Linked DNA regions of Homo sapiens: region 2 is linked to region 1. Evidence: fine-mapped expression QTL. A gene starts in region 1. The other region holds a variant in brackets. All regions are shown on one strand. Distances are between the middles of the regions. Region 1 holds the start of ZNF155 (zinc finger protein 155). Region 2 has its middle 7.7 kb from the start of ZNF283.

What was found. PIP is the estimated chance that this variant, and not a neighbour inherited with it, causes the effect.
Region 2: its variant is the best candidate, but not a certain one, in a credible set for the expression of ZNF155 in whole blood (INTERVAL, PIP 0.66).

Annotation. Positions count from the first base shown.
Region 1 is chr19:43,981,930-43,986,324 of GRCh38, reverse strand. It overlaps ZNF155 (zinc finger protein 155), which reads right to left and starts at 2,137. Exons shown (of 5, transcript NM_198089.3): 1 at 2,080-2,137. RefSeq lists a silencer at 2,241-2,440.
Region 2 is chr19:43,817,446-43,821,840 of GRCh38, reverse strand. It overlaps a transcript of LYPD5 not described here. Among named protein-coding and RNA genes, the nearest start is that of ZNF283, 7.7 kb to the left of the region's middle. The variant T/C (reference allele first, on the strand shown) is at 2,390.

The sequences.
Region 1 (4,395 bases):
ACAATTTTTTTAAATGCTTATAAATAAATATACAATAGACACAGAGAAAGACTAAAAAGAAACGGAGGAGAACTGGAAGTTCCATCTCTTGTATCAGACAGTTAGCACCTTCACATCTTGGATTCATGGGTAATTTAAAACATGTTTTCTCCTCCTATTAATCTAATTTTAAAATGCTCCACAATGATATGGTTCCACAATACAAAATCCTTATAAAAAGTGAAACAGGATGTTGACAAATTTTTAAAAGACTCCTACAGAAGTCCAAGTCTATGAGCCTTGCTCTCAAGGTCCCTTCAATCAAGTCCTAACTCTCTTTCCCCACCTGATTCCAGCTAGTTCCTCTACCTCAATGAAAATGTATCCAAGGGATGATCAACTCAGGCTCTGACCCAAACTGCCTAGGTTCCAGCTCCAGCTGTACCTCATTCTACTGGGAACTAAGCACCAGGTGTCTCACTCCCATATTTAAAATGGAAAAGAGCGACCGGGCGCGGTGGCTCACGCCTGTAATCCCAGCATTTTCGGAGGCCAAGGCGGTCGGATCACGAGGTCAGGAGTTTCAGACCAGCCTGACCAAAACGGTGAAACCCCATCTTTACTAAAAATACAAAAATTAGCTGGGCGTGGTGGTGCGCACCTGTAATCCCAGCTACTTAGGAGGCTGAAGCAGGAGAATCGCCTGAACCTGGGAGGCGGCCTATTGCACTGAGCCCAGATCGCGCCACTGCACTCTAGCCTGGGCGACAGAGCGAGACTCCGTCTCAGGAAAAAAAAAAAAAAAAAAAAAAGAAAAAGAGCAATACCTTTCCACAGAGCCATGGTGTGGCGTAAATGTATTTATTTCCATAAAGCCCTTAGAATTAAGTTACCAATTAAGGTTTAATTATTATCAACACCCATGCCCAAGGACACATCCTATACACTCTTGGTTGAGGTGAACATCTCTGTAAAAGAAAAAACCGGCCCGGCGCGGTGGCTCACACCTGTAATTCCAGCACTTTGGGAGGCCGAGGCAGGCGGATCACTTAGGACCACAGGTTCGAGACCAGCCTGGCCAACATGGTGAAACCCCGTCTCTACTAAAAATACAAAAATTAGCCGGGCATGGTGACGCATGCCTGTAATCCCAGCTACTCCGGAGCTGAGGACAGAGAATCGCTTGAACCCAGGAGGCGGAGGTTGCAGTGAGCCAAGATCGCGCCACTGCTGCACTCCAGCCTGGGAGACAGAGCAAACCTCATTCTCAAATAATAACAATAATAAAAACAGACTAACAAAATAAATAACTTTTTTTTAAAAAGAGAAAAGCCAAAGACCACTCGTGTAGACAGCTTTGTCCTCAGTAGCCAAGTCCCTCCCTGCAGCTCTTTTAGAAAAGTCAGGCTGGGGAAGGAGAAAGCTGTCAAACACTCTGCGTCGCCGTCCCGGATACAAGTTAAATGCTCCTCTCCCTTCGTGAAACGTGGATGCAACCCACGCCTTCCTAAAAAGAGGTCAGAGGCGTCCGGGATCATCCAGAGCCCTGCCGGGCTCCAAGAGAAGGGCCGGAGCAGCTGGAGCTCTGACCCCACCCGGGCACCTGACCACTTCGCGGGAAATTAACAGGACACCAAGTGACAGGAGCTGTTAAGTCTTTGTTTTATACCACAACTTTCAACTCCTAAAACAATTCTATCAGGATGGTCCTGAAATCCTCATTTAAAAAACGGCAATGGGAGGTACAGGGAGATTAAGTAACACCCCACGTTATATCGCGAGAAAGAGGTCGCACACTTAAGAGTGGAGGGAGGCGGACTGAACGAGGTCAAACACCTGGAAAACCCTCTAAACAGGCACACAAGACTAGACAGAGTTCTTCCCCGCCCCCCCCGAACCCCCGACGACTCCTCCGGTGGACCTGAGTACAGCCCCCAACGCCAGAAGGCTCCATCGACGGCAACGAAACTTCCCTCCCACCCCTCGCATCTCCAAACCTCAGGTCTTCTCCAGGGCTTCTTACCCCCTTAGTTGACCCCCCAGGTCGTTAGGCGCCCCTAATAACTGGTTCACTTTCGCAAAGACCCGCAAGACACATACTTGGCTCAAACCACCTTGTTAAGTAGCAGTGTCCTGCTCGGAGACCGGAAGTGTCGATGATGCCACAGGCGTCTGGACTACACTTCCCAGAATCCCCCGAATCCGCCTGCCTGAGCCAAAGTTCCCACGACTCCACAGAGCAAATGGACTCCACTTCCCAGAATTCACAGGTCCTCCTGCCTGGGCCAAAATTCCCACGCCTCCCAAGCTACTCGCGAAACGCCTGCGGGAGCCAAATTTCCTGCGCATCGACCGGGCAATTAGACTCCCGCAGGCGTTTCGCTGGTATCTTGGGAAATGGAGTCCATTTGCTCTGTGGAGGCGTGAGAATTTTGGCTCAGGCAGGTGGACCTGTGAATTCTGGCCTATCAACCTATATTTTTATTTTAAAAAAATGGAGTCTCATGTTCTATATCAATTTTTCTAAACTAAAAAAGAATACTTTTCATGGTTTTCTTTAGATAAAGTGACTGTGCCAACCACAGTATGAGGAACACTTCTCTGAAAATTGAGTGACTGCTATTTCTAAACCAGTTACAGCTGTATCCTTGCTCTGTTCTGCCCTCCCAAGAGATAAAAATTTATTGACACGCTCAATCGTAGTAGGCAGGAAACTGTGCCTAATATATTAGGGTATATCTGGCATCAAAGGCCCTTTCTGTCCCCCAGGTCCTTGCACTCTGGGCCTGTGATGGGAGGAGAAGCTGCCATAATCTGTGAAATGCCTTTGGGGTCATTCTTCCATTGTCTTGGACAATAGGTCCTGGCTTCAGTTGACATGGCCAATCCATACTAAATTCATGAATTAGTTAGTTGCTTAACCATACCCTTGTATTCTTCAGGTTTCCTGTTTTTTTTTTTTTCCAAAGTAGATAGGCTGTAAACTTTTAAAAATTTTAGTTCTGTTTCCCTTTTAATTAATAATTATTTCAGTCATTCCTCACTTCGTGCCTTTCACTACGGGTAGTCAAGATGATTCAAGCAACTTCAACACTTTGATTAGAAATTAATTCAGATAAACAATTATATCATTCACAAATTCTACCTTCCATAAAACACTAGCACCTGAATATAATTCAGCCAAATTCTTTGTCCCTTTATAACAAGAAGCTCTCTTCTCTTCCAATAACATGTTCAACATTTCTGACTGAGGTCTTCAGAATGGCCTTTACTGTCCATATTTCTACCAACATTCTGATCATGACTACCTAGGTATGCTCTAACAAGATTGATGTTTTCTCTACAGTTCTTATTCTCTATTTCTGAGCGCTAACCAGAATTGTCCTTATCAGTCCATTCATGGCAATGTAGGCTTTTCCTAGCATACATGTAAAAACTCTTCTAGACTCTATCCATTACATAGTTCCAAAGACTGCTACATTTTTAGGTATTTGTTGCAGCAGCAAGCCCACCTCTCAGTACCAATATTTTTTAGTCACAAAATATCATAGCCTGCCTGGCTTTTATTTTATTTTATTTTATTTTATTTTATTTTATTTTATTTTATTTTATTTTATTTTTGAGACGGAGTCTTGCTCTGTCGCCCAGGCTAGAGTGCAGTGGCGCGATCTCGGCTCACTGCAAGCTCTGCCTCCCAGGTTCATGCCATTCTTCTGTCTCAGCCTCCCGAGTAGCTGGGACTACAGGTGCTCGCCACCATGCCCGGCTAATTTTTTTGTATTTTTGGTAGAGAAGAGGTTTCACCGTGTTAGCCAGGATGGTCTCGATCTGACCTTGTGATCCGCCCACCTCGGCCTCCCAAAGTGCTGGGATTACAGGCGTGAGCGACCACGCCCGGCCGGCTTTTAAGCAACAGAAATCTATTCTTCACAGATCTGGAAACTGGGATCCAAGATCAAAGCACTGGCAGATTTTGTGTCAGGTAGTTGGCCACTTTCTTGTTCATAGTTAGCACCATATTGCTGTGTCTTCATTTGGTTGAAGTGACAAACAAGCTCCTTCTGGCATTTTTTATAAGGGTATTCATCCCGTGACCTAATCACCCTCCAAAGGCCCCACCTCCTATTACCATCACATTGAGGGTAAAAATTACAATATATGGATTTTGGTGGGCCACAAACATTAAGACCATTGCATACGCATCATGCAGTGTCAGAGTTACTAATTCATATCATTGTAAAAAACAATGCAAAAGTAGAGTTCAACATTTTTTATAGTTCTTTTTGTCTTTAGACTGAGGATATATAGTCAAACACTGTACTGTTTAATAAGTTGCTTAAATTACTTCTTGCTGTCACCTTTAGACTGTTTATGTTATTGATTTGAAATACATTTAGGTTAATTTGTTATTCTATG
Region 2 (4,395 bases), 160 kb after region 1:
AGCTAAAGTAGTTCAGTATTTCAAGAAAGAGTACGTCGCTGAGATAGTAGAAGGCAGCCAAAAATCTTTCAAAATAAGTAATAAAAATATTTATTTGGATTTAGCAACATTCAGTTAATTGTTGCAGTTTTTAAATATTCAAATAACTGATGATAAATAATGTCAGAAATGAAAGTGTCCCCCTACTCATTCCCTATCTACAGAAATGACCAAAGTTAATATTTTCAGGTATTCTTCCAGATTTTTCTGTACACTGAATGTATGTATAAAGACACAGCTATTTTATACAGAAATGGGATCATGCTATCCATATAATTCTGCCATTTGCCCTTTCCACTTCAACACATTCTTCTACTTCATTTCATGTCAGTTATAGATTTAATTCATTCCTTTTAACGTTGAATTATTACCTAACCCAGCACTGTTCAATGTAGCTTTCTGTGATGTTAGAAATGTTTATATCCCTCTTGTCCAATACAGTAGCCACTAGCTGTCTTGGCTAATGAGCCTTTGAAACATGGCTAGTGTAAGAAACTGAATTTCGAATTTTATTTAATTTTAATAGATTTAATTTTAAATAGCCACAAATAGCTATCATATTGGCTAGCACAGACTAACAGTGTCTCAAAAAACGAACATTGAGGTTCTTCAGTATTACAATGTGAATTCTTCAGTATTACAAACACGGCTTTGGTAAGCATTACTGTACCCACATCTTTGTCTTTCATGCCAGCATTTTTGTAGGCTAGATTCTTGTATGTAAAAATGCTGGTTGCTTAGGGGTTTGCTTTCACACTTCGTGAATGCTACTACACAAAACTGTAAAAGAGCTGTAGTCATTTCCACCCACTACGTGTGAAAGCTCTCATTTCCCCACATTCTCAACAATATTGTGTACCATCTACATTTTTAGTTTTTGAAATTTGATAACTGAAAACGAAGTATGCCATCTGTTTCCGTTATCAGTTTATTGCTCTCACCTCCGCACGCACTCTTCAATATACGCTCCCTGCTAAAGGGATTCCCCCGAAGGGTTCCTGCGCCTACGCACTCGGAGCACAGGTTACAACTTCCAGAAACCCTTGGGACGCGCCGTCCCAAACTTGGGTTTCTGGCGTCTCCTGCGTTTCCGGCCCGGGACTACAATTCCCACAGGTCACTGGGCCGAATGAGCGTGCGCTCCTGATCCGCTTTGCGCATCCCAGTGATTCTTGGGTTCCGCGTGTAGTTTCGGAAGGAGACATCGAAGCAGGGCGAGGCGCAGAGGGCGTTGCGGACTCATGCCCCAGTCGGCAGTGCGGGTAAGGGTGGGAGAAGCAATGAGGCGAATGCGAGCAGCCGAAGAAGGCGACAGTGTGGCTGGGTATGAAGACTTGAGGGAGGGGGTGGGGCAAAACGAGGTCAGGCGTCTCCCTGGCCGCGTGTGATGGACCGTCCGTGGTGGTGACAGACATGGTGTAGGGGGTGTGTGCAATATTATGTGCGTGATAGAGCCAAGGATGTGCCCTACCGTGCGAATGGTGACGTTGCGTCTGTATGAGAGTGCACGTGCCACGGCTGGGATGTCTTGTGACACAGGGAATGGGGTGTGTGTGCATCTGTGCACATGAAATGGCCAGGGTATGTCTTCGTGACTGCATGTGTGCTCATGACACAGCAGGTGTGTTTCTCTTTGTATGACAGACTGTGTGTATGTGTCAAAAAGAAGAAAGTGCTTGGTGTATGACAGGACTGGAATGAATCTGTGACTGTGACACAAGTGTGTGGGTTTGTGTGTAGAGTGACAGCTGGAGTGTGCCCTAGACAATCGAGCTTTCCTACAGGAATGGTGAAGTCTTTTCCTTCTCTAGCTACACAGTATTGTCCAATAATTGAAGTTTTTAGGACCCAGAAGTTGCTAATTTGGGCCTTCTGAACTGGAATTGGGTCAGGAACTGGATCAGTGGGCACCAACTCTCTAGCTTCCCAAGGCCATCAGTCTCCCATAGTGGTTCCCTCACATACATAACAGAAAGTAACATTGAGGAAATGAGCTACACTTTCCGCTAGCTGGAGAAACAAGTTCTTTTGTCCTTTTTGGAAGCTCTGGTGTTGGCAGATTCGGCTCATCATAAAAAGTTTGAAACACTGGTTTGGGAGAGTGCCTGTGTACCTCCCCTCAAACTAAAAAGGCAACTTGGGGGTTTAGCCCTGACCCATCGATCTCCAGGGTTACACGTTCTCCTTTTTTCCAACGGGGGTCTAGGGGATTAGTGGGTCATGAGTTAGAGGCCTGTGAAAATTGTGCCTATTGACCATGTGTTATTTAAGCTACTTAGAAAAAGGACAGAAAAGACCCGGTTCACCTTCAGAAAAAGGAAGCCAATCCCTCCTGTGCTACCGGTCACTG[T/C]AACCCGCTAGAACTAATAATCACTAATCTCCTAGACCCCTCGGGAGGCTGAGGCAGGAGACTCGCTTGAACCCTGGGGGTGGAGATTGCAGTGAGCTGAGATCATGCCACTACGCTCCAACCTGGGCAACAAGAGCAAACTCCATCTCAAAAAAAAAAAAAAAAAAAGAAGAAGAAGAAGAAGGGAAAAATGAAAAGAATGAAGGCTATGTCCAACTTGAAGTTAGAACACAGAATAATAGAATAAATACAAAGAAAGTTGGTTGAGGTCAACAATAAGCACAAGTTAAAGAAATAGAAAACACTGATGCAATAGAGGCTAAATGCCAACAACTGCTTATTTGAAGTGATCCATTTCTGAGATAATTAAAAAATAGATTATTTCAAAAGATGAATAAAAAAGAGAACAGGCACAAATAATATTAAGAAAGAAAAAGACTACACAAGAATAGAAAATATTTTTTGAATTAGAATAAATTTGAAAACAGATGAAATGGTCAATTTCCTAGAAAGCTATAACTTAAAGAATTGACAAGAAGAGACAGAAACTTTTAATAATAGACAATTAGTCATTAATGATACAGCATCAGTAGTTTAGAATTTAAACTCTAATCATCACCAGGCTCAGATAATTGCATGCAAGAGTTGAATTAAGAAAGAGTTCAGACACATCTTATGTGTCACTTCAGATCCTCTCAGCCTCACCTGTGCCTGGGGCCTCTGGAAACTTGTTTCTCTTGATTCACTGCTGCAGCAACATCCCTGCATGAACTCAGAACAACTCTACATGGGCACAAGCAGCAACGAAACCTGACCTCATGCCTGCAATGGGCACTACTTGTCTCAAGCCCCAGGGCTTTCCTGTTGATGCTGATGCATGAGACGTTACAGAACCCATTGAACTATTCACACGCGACCTGGAAGTACAGCGGAGTTAATAGTCTCTGGGACAAACATTTCATGAACCAGTGGATGAATTCACCTCCCTTCTTCTCCTCAGCTAGGTGGTCTTAAAACACAAAATTAAACAATCAATTACACTTGATAGCAAGCAGTGGCCAGCTCAGTAAGACCTTCATACAAGTGTTGTCTCCTTCCCTACCACACTATACTTTTCCCTCTCTCCTGCTTCCCTGGAACTGTACCGGCTGATAAAATAATAGCACAGAAACTTCTTCTCAGGGTCCTCCCTGTAGGCAATGTAAGCTAAGAGGAGTGTTTCCAGGAGAGACCCTCAAGATCCTTGTGATAGGATTTCAAGCTTGTTACTTATCCATGTTTGGCCCAAGTCTGATCTCACAGTGAGTTCAGTAAGTCCATGAACTCACCCTATGGTTGTTTTCCTCTATCCTTTAACATATATTTGGGATAGATATGCTCATCTTCTGGTAGAACTCATTATAGTGGCTTCCTAACTTGTGAACTAAGAGTACTTATGGGCTGGGCGCAGTAGTTCATGCCTGTAATCCCAGCACTTTGGGAGGCCAAGGCGGGTGGATCATGTGGTCAGGAAATAGAGACCATCCTGGCCAAAAAGGTGAAACCTCATCTCTACTAAAATAAAAAAATTACTTGCGTGTGGTGGTGCACACCTGTAATCCCAGCTACTTGGGAGGCTGAGGCAGGGGAATAGCTTGAACCTGGGAGGCAGAGATTGCAGTGAGCTGAGATGGCGCCACTGCACTCCAGCCTGGTGACAGAGTGAGACTCCATCTCAAAAAAAAAAAAAATAAATAAAGTCCTTATGGTATAAAGAGCCAAGTGGAAACCCTTGAAACTCAATACTGTGCTGTGGGAGGAATTGCAGAGATTGCATCATCATCAAAATTTAGAGGATGCAGGATTATTTGTCCCTATCATACCTCCATTCATTTCACTTGGCCCCTGCAAAAAACCTGCATGACTGAAGCTAGTGGATGTGGTAGATTGAAAAAAAATCCCACAAATTCTTCCCATTCCTGTGTGTATATTCTTTGCAACATGACTTTGCAGCTCTTCCCTTCAAA